Homo sapiens: one gene and its partner. The protein of the gene in region 2 purifies or fractionates together with the protein of the main gene of each other region. This does not show direct contact. Each region holds a gene or a part of one and is shown on either strand. Other genes may lie near its edges.

Region 1 (5,051 bases), on a different chromosome or scaffold from region 2:
AATAGCATGTGTTAGGATTTCATTTCTCTTCATGGCTAAATATCTTATTGTTGAGTTTTAATTATCAACAGCTGTCATTAGGAAAGACTATTCTTTCTCTTTTAAAGTCATAAAAATGTATTTTTTTCTTTCCATTTCGTTTCCCTTCAGTATGATCACTAACACTTGGAATTGACATACCAATTGATCATGGTTGTCTCTCACAAGAACACTATATTTATATTTATTCCTTTCAAAGCAGTTACTTGCTTCAGGTCAGCATGTTTTTGGGGGAATTTTTCATAAAAGGTTAATTGAATTATAATTTACATTCCATAAAATTCACCTTTTAAGATTTTATTTTTTATTGTTTTTATTATTTGTGGAGATGGGGGTCTCACTTTGTTGTTGCCCAGGCTGGTCTCGAACTCCTGGTCTCAGGTGATCCTCCCGTCTTGGCCTCCCAAAGTGCTGCGATTACAGGCATGAACCACGGCTCCTAGCCACTCACTTTTCTTAAGTGTATAATTCAGTGGTTTGTAGTTACAGAGTTATGCAACCATCATCCTAGTCCTGTTTTAGAACATTTTTAGCACCCCGAAAAGCTTTCTCATGCTCATTTGCAGGCACTGCATTTTTGCCTGAAGCCTCATACAACCACTGATCTACTACTTTCTGTCTCTATAGATTTCTCTTCCCTGAAAAATTAAGCTAAATGGAATCATATAATATGTAGTCTTATGCATCTGGCTTCTTTCACTAAGCATGCTGTGTTTGAGGCTCATCGTGTTGTAGCATGTATCAGTAGTTTGTTCCTTTTTATTGCTAGAAAATATTCCATTTTGTAAACCATAAGTTGTTTATCCATTCACCAGCTGATGATTTGGGTCATTTCCAGTTTTTTGCTCTTATGAATAATGCTGCTATGAATGTTTGCATACGTGTCTTCATGTGTATATATGTTTTCACTTCTAATTTCATTTTTTACCTAGGAGTAGAATTTTGCTGGGTTGTATGGTAAATTTATGTTTAAGTTTAATTTAAACTTGTGTTTATTTAAAAAAACCTACCATACTGTTTTCCATAACAGAAGCACCGTTTCACATTCCCACCAACAATGTATGAGGATTCTGATTTCTCCACATCCTCGCCAATACTTGTTGTTGTCTTTCTTTTTGATTGTAGCCACTCTAGTGGGTGTGAAGTGGTATCTCGTTGTGGTTTTAATTTGCATTATCCTGGTGACCAATGAGGATGAGCACCTTTTCATGTGTTTGTTGGCCATTGGTGCGTCATCTTTGCTGAAATGTCTATTCAGATCTTTTTTTTCCTTTACTTTGTCTCATAAAACTTTTGATGATTAAGTGAACAGCACTTAGTATATTTTCTCCATTTGCCCTCTTTTGGGGACTATTTGTTTCCATGTGCTTCAACCTTAGATGTATTTAACTGATCAGTTTCAGGATCTCAGGAATTAGGAAGTGGTTCTTATGAGGCTGTGGTTCAGATTTCTGCTCTTGTTAGGCCAGTGGGCATCGCTCTGGGCAGATGCCACACAGGCTGGACTTCCTAATTCTGGCCTGCATAAGCTAATGATCCAAGCCCTCTCAATGGACAAAATGAGAACCGGCCAAGGAAGAACTGTTATCACCATTGAGCTACTGGGGAAAGCAAGTTGTAAAGGGGACTTTGTTATCCTGTCAAGGTCATTGCATTTCTAAAAATTAGCCAGTGGAGGAATACTAACCTAGCAGTCAAAGTAGTTTTTCTAGATTTAAGTTTCTGAGTGAGCCTCGTTTTACCTTTTAAAATTATAACCCCTTCTGTTTCAAATTATATATTTTTTGCCATCAGAAGAAGAGTTTCGTTCAGGAAATACGGAGACCCTGCTCTGCCTTTACCATGTCCTCCAGAGCCCTAGACTAGAGTAATGGCTTTTTGGATGGAGGTAACCAATGTAGGAGTCATTAGCGGGGAGATTGAGTGGGATGTTTGGGGGCCAGTGGCGCGGCCAGTTGTGACTGTAGCAGAGTGAAGGCGAATGCACAAAGAGATAGGCCAGGGCAAGGTCATAGGGATCTTGAATTCTAGAAAGGACTTAGAGTTTTATTCTAAGTGTGATGGGCAGCCATGGAAGGCTGTGCCATGATCGTACTCATACTTTAAAAAGATTATGTAGGCAGCTGTGTAGAGACCAAGCGTAGTGGAGCAACAATGGAGGCAAGATGACCAGTAAGGAAGCTGTTGTAATAGTTGAGGTGAGAGATGATGGCACCGTGGGCTAGGGTGACAGCATCACAGATGGTGGTCAGAGGCTGGGTATTTTTGGAAGTAGAGCCCACAGGATTTGCTGCACAGCATATGGGCTATGAGAGAAAAGAAAGAAGTCTAGAATGATTCAGATATTTTTGGCCTGAGCAGTTATGTGAATGATGGTACTATTTGCTAAAATAGTTTGCTTGGGAAGGATTAGGTTTAGGGGTAAAATTAACAATATGAATGAATGACCTAATCTTATAATGCAAAGACAAAATATTATGACATGGATAGTTCCTGAATACATTCTCATGCAAGCATCAAAGAGTATAGACGTATACAGTGTAAAAGCACCCCCTTTTCCTAGCTAACAATCATTGTTAGCAGTTTGGTATGCATTTTTTCTTGTCCTTTTTCTGCGTGTTTTTTTCATAAATGGGATTATACTATAAGGATTATTTTGTGTTTTGCTTTTCGAGTTGATCATTTGTCTTGAAGACCTTCCATGTCAGTACATGCATGTAGTGCATTCTTTTTAATGACTGCAGAGAGCTTTATGTGGATATGCCATAGTTGGTATTTACTCAGTTTCCTGTTGAAGGATATTTGGATTGTCTCTGTTGTTCACTATTAGAAGGCGTGCTGCAGTGATTATTTGCACACCTGCTTTTGTGTGTGGATTCCAGCATTTCCCTGAGATGGATTCCTTCAAGTGGAATGGTTGCTGGCTCCAGTTTTTACAAGCCCTTTGACATCTGTTGTTTAGGTCCTTTGCATCCTTGTAGCCGGTTGATAATTTGGTGCTCCTTTGAGTATGTTAGATTGTTTCTGAAGCTTAATCTTTTGGTTAAATCAGAAGCATCCTTAACAGACCCTTCTGTTAGACACTGACACTGATTTTAAAACAACCAAGGGATAGAAAAAAAAAAAAAACTTAGTGTGTGTGTATGTGTGCCAGGGAAAGAGAGATGACAATTAATTGGATGTGTCCCTATTAGCCCTGGAACTGCTTGATATGCTTTCTGAGTGGCATGTTCTTATAGGTCAGATGGGAGATGGGATGGGGCTTTGCCCATATCTAAGAGTCTATTCTAACCTCCAGGCTCAGGGACTAGGAAGGAAATCATGTTTATTTAGGGTGAGAACAACAGCATTAGCAGCCAGAGGAATTTTTACAAATTATAGTGACTGGGGTTTACACATTTTTGTAGCACCTCAGAATGGAGAGAGAGGAAATGGTAAGGAAAACAGCTTGGCAGTGTGGGCCACGAGCTGTCATGGCATGTTTGTGTCTGGCTCATTTCACCTTGATTGGAAGGCACAGAATGCTGCCCTGGGTAAGCTGGAGACTGGGCAGTTTCCTGCTATATTTAGAAAGAGGAGATTCCTGGGGTTAGGGTGGTGTGTGTGTGTGTGTGTGTGTTTTCTTTGCCAGATAGACAAAGGTTTGAGGGGTTTGTGAATTCCACACCAAACTGTTAACTAGCTGGTTTCTCTGGGCCAAGCCAGTAGCTACTCTTTGACTCTTGCTGCTGCCACACAGCAAAAGCTCAAAAAACTCCTATTTTATATGGTTTGAAAAGATACCGCTGGTAAGTTTCAAAACTCATCTGATCTTGCTGTCACATCTGCTTTTAAGTTTACTGCAGGCTAATTTGAACACTTTGAAAATATGAACTGCCTCCTCCTCTGAGACTTCAGATAGATCTCCAAGCTGACTGAGTTGAACTTTGGCTGTTTCTGTGCCAAGGAGACTGTCAAACAGATAGGACCAAAGCCTTAGCAAATTCCTGACTGCGTATCTCGTTATCACACTTGTGGGTCAGGGGTAGACAATGAATATTAGTCGAACAAATAAAATAAGGCATTTTTACTTTAACTCATAGCTATGTTTCTTTTTAAAAGGGTTGCCTAAATAGGTAATACCTATAAGTTGTTCATAATTCAAAAGAGACAAAAGAGAATGTGAATATCCCTCCAATGCTTCCTGTCTCCTGATCCCCACTTCTTCCTCTGGAGGCATTTTATTGGTTTCTTTGGTATTTTTCAGATGTAATTTATGCATGTGCCAACAAATACACATACACATTGTGCCATATGTGCTGTTTTACCCTTTGCTTTTAATATATTAGATATTATTCTACATTGGTACATAGAGAGCTCACTCATTGTTAGATTGCATTGTATTCTATTGTATGAATTAAATATAGTGTATGTAACCATTCCCCTAATAATAAACATTTAGATTATTTCCAACCTTTCACCATTGCAAGTAATGTTGTTGTGAACATCCTGGCACCTCTGGCATGAGGCACATGAGTGACAAATTCCTAGAAATGAAACTGCTGGACCAAAGGGTATGTACATTTTTCATTTTAATAAGTATTTCATAACAGTGTTTCTGAAAAGTTCTAAGTGAACTGAATTTGATAAACCATGATTTTAGAGTAGGAAGGAAACTCACCATTTTAGACAGTTTATTACAGAATGGTCTCTGTAAATAAAACAATACTTAGAATTTTCTCCATTTTCCCCTTTCCAGTTTGTGTGTATTGTTAATTCTGGGATTAAAAGCCACAGCAAAAATCATTCCCTAAACTGAGACAGCTGTACCTAGAAATCAGTTGAATGTAGGATCCCAGAGACCTTGTTTGTGTTCCTAGTGATGGTGCTGTTGAGTTTTTATCTTTGTGCGGTGCGTGTAACATTCAGGAGATTCGGCAGGTTTGTTGAAGGAGGGCAGTCTTCTGCCTTCTGTGACCGGAGACCGTGACTCTGGTCTAGGGGACACGTTGCCTATCATAGAAGCTTCCCGG
Region 2 (5,600 bases):
AGGCAGGAGAACTGCTTGAACCTGGGAGGCGGAGGATGCAGTGAGCTGAGATCGCACCACTGCACTCCTGCCTGGGCAACAGAGCGAGACTCTGTCTCAAAAAAAAAAAAGTGCTGAGATTACGGGCGTGAGCCACGGGGCTTGTCCCACAGCCCTCAGTCTTTCTAACGTATTCTCCAGAATTCGCAGCTCCTACCTTCATTGTCCCTCTGAGGCCACCACCCCTTTCTCAAGAACTTTTCAGGGAGTGTCCCCTGCCCTTGAATGGTTCATCTCAGGCCCATCCAAAAGGACCCCCCCAATTCCTTTTGAGAATGGAATCTTCCACTTCCTTGGTTCTTCCCTGAATGAACCCTCCCGGCAAGCCTCCCCGGGCGTGGAATAGATCCTCCCAGCTCCCAGCTCCACCCCAGGGAGAGATAGGGGGTATCTCACCTGCTTTCTTGCTGGGGGGCGTCTCTGCCCCAGACCCAGGCCCCACCATGCTGAGCTTGGTGCTGGGGTGTCTCCGGGGCTTGGCAGGGGGTCTTCGGGTGCTGCTGTCCTCTGTGAGGCCCCCACTGGCCCCGCCAGGGCCACCCCCGACACTGTCCATGCTGCCCACCGAGTGGCAGGAGAGGGAGCGTGGGGCCATGGCGCTGCGGCAGGGGTGCGGGGTGTGCTCCTGGGAGGCGGGCATCGTCATGAAACCCATCCTGAGGGAGCGCCGCAGCGAGGCGATGTCCCGCACGCGGACCCCAGGCCCCTGGCCGGCCGCGGGCCCAGCCGAGCCAGCGGGGGCCACCTCCTTACTGGAGCTGGGGAGAGAAGGCCACGATGGAGTGGAGGAAGGGCCTCGGACCTGGGCATCCCCCTTCTCCACCCCAAGAGGTGTCAGCAACCCTGTGGCTTCCCAGGGAAGAGGACGGGAGCCTGGGTGGGGACAGGGTTGCCAGAAGGTCCAGGGCACCAATGAAGGGGCTTCAGGCAGAATCTTGGGCTTTAAAAACACAAGGCAGTTGGGGGCAGGGATGAGAAGAGGGGTGAGTATGCCTGCAGGGGAGCATCCCTGGGGCTGGCGGATCCCAGCCTGGGCACCTGTGTGGACAGCCTTGTGCAGAGGTAGAGATACAAACCCAGGTAACACAGATGGACACGCCTGCCCCCCACAGCTCCTTGGCCCCTCTCACTCTCACAGTGGCCCACACCTGGCCTCTGGTTACCCCTCCTGCCCAGCCACTGTGACCTCTGCCCCCACGGCACACCTCCTCTCCCAGATGCAGGATGTGCCCCTCCAGGACCAGAGCAGCCTCCCTCCCTGGCCCATCCTTCTTCCTCCCTCTCCCCTGGTGCTGTTCTCTCTCTGTCAGCCTCCCCGGCTCACCCCCATTCCATTCCACTGTCCCTGAGCTTCTGTCTGAGTGGAGGGTGGCAGAGGGTTGGGGGGGCGGCTGGCAGGGAAGAGAGGAGAGCTGTGTGGGGTGGGCACTCATTAAGGCCCTGTCTACTAGCCCTTCATTAGGGAGAGATCGCTGCAGCGATCACTCTGATTAATCTAATTAACAACAAGAATTAAACTCCACAGTTGCGAGGAAGGAAAAGGGAGGTGGCTGTGAGTCAGGCTCCAAGTGGCTGTGAAGTCAATGGGAGAGAAGAGGAGAAGGAGAGAAGGATGGGAGAGGCCAGGCCCCAGGTCCCTGGAAGGGCAAGCGGGGAGGCAGACAGGGATTGCAGGGGTCTGGAGGTCGTCCCCTGCCCTGGCTCTTTGGCAAGGCCCAGCCTGCATGTCTGCCCACCACACACACAACCCCATCACTTGACCACTCACCTCCCCCAGCAGGGAAAACTGGGAGGAGGCCAAGTGGATGTTCTCTGATGCCCCTGAAATGACCCCTTCCCTAGACCCTGGGAGAGAGGCGGGGCCTGCCCCTTCCAAGGTCAGGTGACAGGAGAGCCCGCAGCCAGCCCCAAATTTGCAGAAAGGAGAAGGGCTACAGGCCAGAGGTGAGTCAGGAAGGAGTGACTCGGGCCTCTGGGGATGGGGAACAACCAAAGGGGTGCTCCTAGGCTGTAAACCCCCCCACAGGAGAGCAGGAGTTGGGCCAGGACAGTGTGTGCAATCCTGGCCATTCCGTACTGACTCTGAGATCAGAGAGCTCACTCATGACAAGGCTGCCGGCCCCCGAGAAGGGCTGTGGCCCAGTGAGGGGGCAGGCAGAGGTGCGGAAGGGAAGGGAGCAGTCTGGGGTGCAGCCTTACCTCCTCTTGGCCTCCTCTTCCTTGTGCTGCCTCCACTCCAGCTTGGTTTTTCGGTAGAGGAGGTTCATCTCGTGGGGCAGGAGGTGGGGGCTGGGGGGCCCTGCTCAGTGCCACCAGGCCCGGGGGGCGGCCCTCCCTGGGTCCCGGATCCACTGGCGGGCGGGGTGGGTGAGAACGGAAAAAAAAGAAAGGTGGGATGGGTGGGGGCCAGGGATGAATGAAAGAGAGAAAACGGAGAAGAGACATGACTCGGGTCCTCAGAGAGGAAAACACAGACAGAAAACCCAACACAGCTTCGAGGACCCACAGACAGACAGACACAGACCCCGACAAAGGTGTTCAGAGCCCCAAATACACACTCTGGAGAGACCAGGTCAACACAGATTCCCTTCTTGTGTAAAGACATCCCGATCCACCACCCATACAGGCCCCACAAACGGACTGCAACCCCTCAGCTACACAAGTACACATTCAGACACACAAACCACGGAGCCACCGACCCACATCTACAGACAGAGGACCAGACGCAGAGATTGGCATAGGTAAACAGAAACCTAGGGATAGACAGGCACACAGACATAAACACCCACAGACACACCCACAGACCTCCAGACACACACAAATCTGCTACACAGAACTGGACACACCTACAGGCAGAGTTATGCCCAGGGCCTACTTGCGTACATTGCACCCCACTGGGAAAAGGGGAGATGGTCAGACTCTCCCCCCTATCTTGGGCTGTAGGGGGATCTCATGAGGGCAGGGTGGGGACGCTGAAGGAAGGATGGGAGACACCCTGAGTTGGGTATCTAAAATACCACCCATCCATCTATCTCCACTGCCTGCCTTCCCCCACTTCCAGTCCTTCCCCGGGCCTGGGCCTTGGTCCACCCCGATTCTGGCTCCCTGGCCCTTTAGCAATGGTTTAGTCTCTGCCTCCCTCCCTCGCTGATGGCCCCAATCACCTTCTTCTTCCTCCAGGATTTGGGAGGCCCCCTGGTTTTCCTCTTCCAGTCCCCGCCCCTCAATCCCACCCGGGGGGCTCCAGTCTGGCCCCACTGCTACCTTCTGGGCTGCGGCCTCCATACCTGCTCCGGTTTTCCTTCCCCCAAACCCACACTCTTCTTTTCGCCTTCAGCCTCACTTCTCCTCCCAGGCGCCCCTCCTTACAGCCGTCCTCCCCCTTCCCCTGTTCCAAACCTGGCCTGCTTCATCCCCCTTCTCCATCCAAGGGCCCCAGGTTCCTGGCACCCCTCCCCTTCCCCTTGTCCTGCTACCCTGGGCTTCTCCGCCTTTCGCTCCGCCAATCCTCCCTGTCCCTTGTCCCCCCACCCCAACCTTCCTGCACCAAGCCTCCCCAGGTTCTCCATCACCGTACCTGGCCTGCCGGGCGCCGGCCCCCCCATGCCGGGCTCCGCCCGGAGCAGGAGGAGGGAGGAGGAGAGACAGAGACAGACCGGGGGGAGCGAAGCTGGGCCCTGCCGCAGAGACAGCCCCGCCTCCGGGTCCGCCCCCAGACCCGCCCCCGGCCCCAAACCCACCCTTCCACACCCTCCAAGGACGGAACGGGAGCGGCCGTGCGGCGCGGGGCCGTGGGGCTGGGGCGCGGGGCGGGGGAGCCGCGGAGCCTGCGGGGGCAGATTCGGAGGAAGGTCGTGGGGCGCTGGGGGCCCGGCGCCAGCCCGTCGCGGTCTTTGGGCGTCCGCTCCTCGCCGCCCCTCGCCCCCTGCCCGGCCGGTCGGTGCTGAGTTCGGTCTCCCCGGCCCCGGCGGAGCGGCGTGCGGCGGCGCCCCCCAGCGGCAGCCTGGGGCCCACGCCCCCGCACCGTGTACCCCGTGCACCCCGTGCAACCCGTACGCCCGGCGCGCCCCGGGTCCGCACCCAGCGTCGGTCCGGGGCCGAGGCTGCGGCTGCGGGGCCCGGGGTGCAGTGAGGCGCTGGGGCCGCCAGGGGGTGCCGCTTTCCGGGCCGAGGGGCTCCGAGGGTGGGGAACGGGACGGGCGGCGGCTCAGCCCAGCAGGGGGCGTGCTCCGGCGGCCGCGCCCCCTTTCCCCACCGCCCCCAGGTGCCAGGAGAGCACCTGAGTTGGCTCGCGGGGGAATCGGCTGCCTCCCCCTGCAGCCTCCCGGGGGTGCCCGGATCTCGTTCCACCGTCTGGGCTCAAAGCTATCCGCCCCCGTGGCCCGAGTCCTCCTCTCGTGACCTTTGACTCCCCCGGCGCCGCTCGCAACGACCAGGGTCGACCTGAGTGTGGCCACCGCGGCTACCACCCTGGCACTGTCGGGGGGCCGCTACGGGACGTGACCTCGACCTCCCCTTTTCTCATTTATCTTTTCTTTTCTCATTATCTCCCCTAGAAATAACTCCCTCTGAAATCCCTTGGGCTCACAGCTCTGCAGCGGGGGTAAATCAGCTCGAGAAGACCTCGGTTGTACCTTCCACGGGCTGGAAAATGGGCACGGCAAAGATAGGCACGGCCTGATCCCTGGAGCCTGCGAATGCTACTTTCCATGGCAGCGTCTTTGCAGTCTTGCTGTGTGGCTTTAGGCAGATCGTGCAACCTCTCTGAGAGACGCTTTAGTCCGGGGATGTCCACTCTTTTAACTTCCCTGGGCCACATTGGAAGAAGAATTTGTCTTGGGCCACACATAAAATACTCTTAACACTGGCGGGGCGCGGTGGCTCACGCCTGTAAATCCCAGCACTTTGTGAGGCCGAGGCTGGTGGATCACCTGACATCAGAAGTTTGAGACCAGCCTGGCCAACGTGGCAAAACCCCGTGTCTACTAAAGATAGAAAAAATAAGCTGGGCATGGTGGCCTGCGCCTGTAATCCCAGCTACTCGGGAGGCCAAGGCAGGAGAATCGCTTGACCTGGAAGGCAGAGGTTGACGTGAGCCCAGATCGGGCCACTGCACTCCAGCCTGGGTGAGAGAGAGAGACTTTGTCTCAGAGAAAAAAAAAAAAAAAACGAAAACAAAAACAAAAACCAAAACTTAGGCGTTTTAAGAAAATTTACCAATTTGTCTTGGGCCACAAGCTGCCCGTGCGGTTGGACAAGCTGGCTTTAGTCCATTCTTTGGAAGGGGAGGGGTAGTAAAATAATACCAAAGTGCCTTGTAAATTGTAAAAGGTCCCACATATTATAGGCTATTAAGAATGCTCCCAGGGGAGGGAAATATTAAAACACTTAAAACCCATTTCACATTTATACCTTTAGTATGATTAGTTTATATGTATAGGCCGGGAGCAGTGGCTCACGTCTGTAATCCCAGCACTTTGGGAGTCTGAGGCATGCAGATCACTTGAGGTCAGGAGTTCGAGACCAGCCTGGCCAACATGATGAGACGCCCATCTCTACTA

The links. Proteins that work in one complex are often made in the same cells at the same time.
Region 1: the proteins of NYAP1 (region 2) and ARHGAP26 purify together in Homo sapiens (affinity purification with western blotting, with the first as the bait; one study listed by BioGRID). This does not show direct contact.

Annotation. Positions count from the first base shown.
Region 1 is NC_000005.10:142,775,789-142,780,839, forward strand, and holds part of ARHGAP26 (rho GTPase-activating protein 26), read left to right. Parts: intron 1-5,051. UniProt on the Homo sapiens protein: GTPase-activating protein for RHOA and CDC42. Facilitates mitochondrial quality control by promoting Parkin-mediated recruitment of autophagosomes to damaged mitochondria.
Region 2 is NC_000007.14:100,482,018-100,487,617, reverse strand, and holds the start of NYAP1 (neuronal tyrosine-phosphorylated phosphoinositide-3-kinase adapter 1), read right to left. Parts: upstream 3,692-5,600; 5' UTR 3,617-3,691; intron 2,391-3,616; 5' UTR 2,307-2,390; coding exon 2,239-2,306; intron 798-2,238; coding exon 436-797; intron 1-435. UniProt on the Homo sapiens protein: Activates PI3K and concomitantly recruits the WAVE1 complex to the close vicinity of PI3K and regulates neuronal morphogenesis.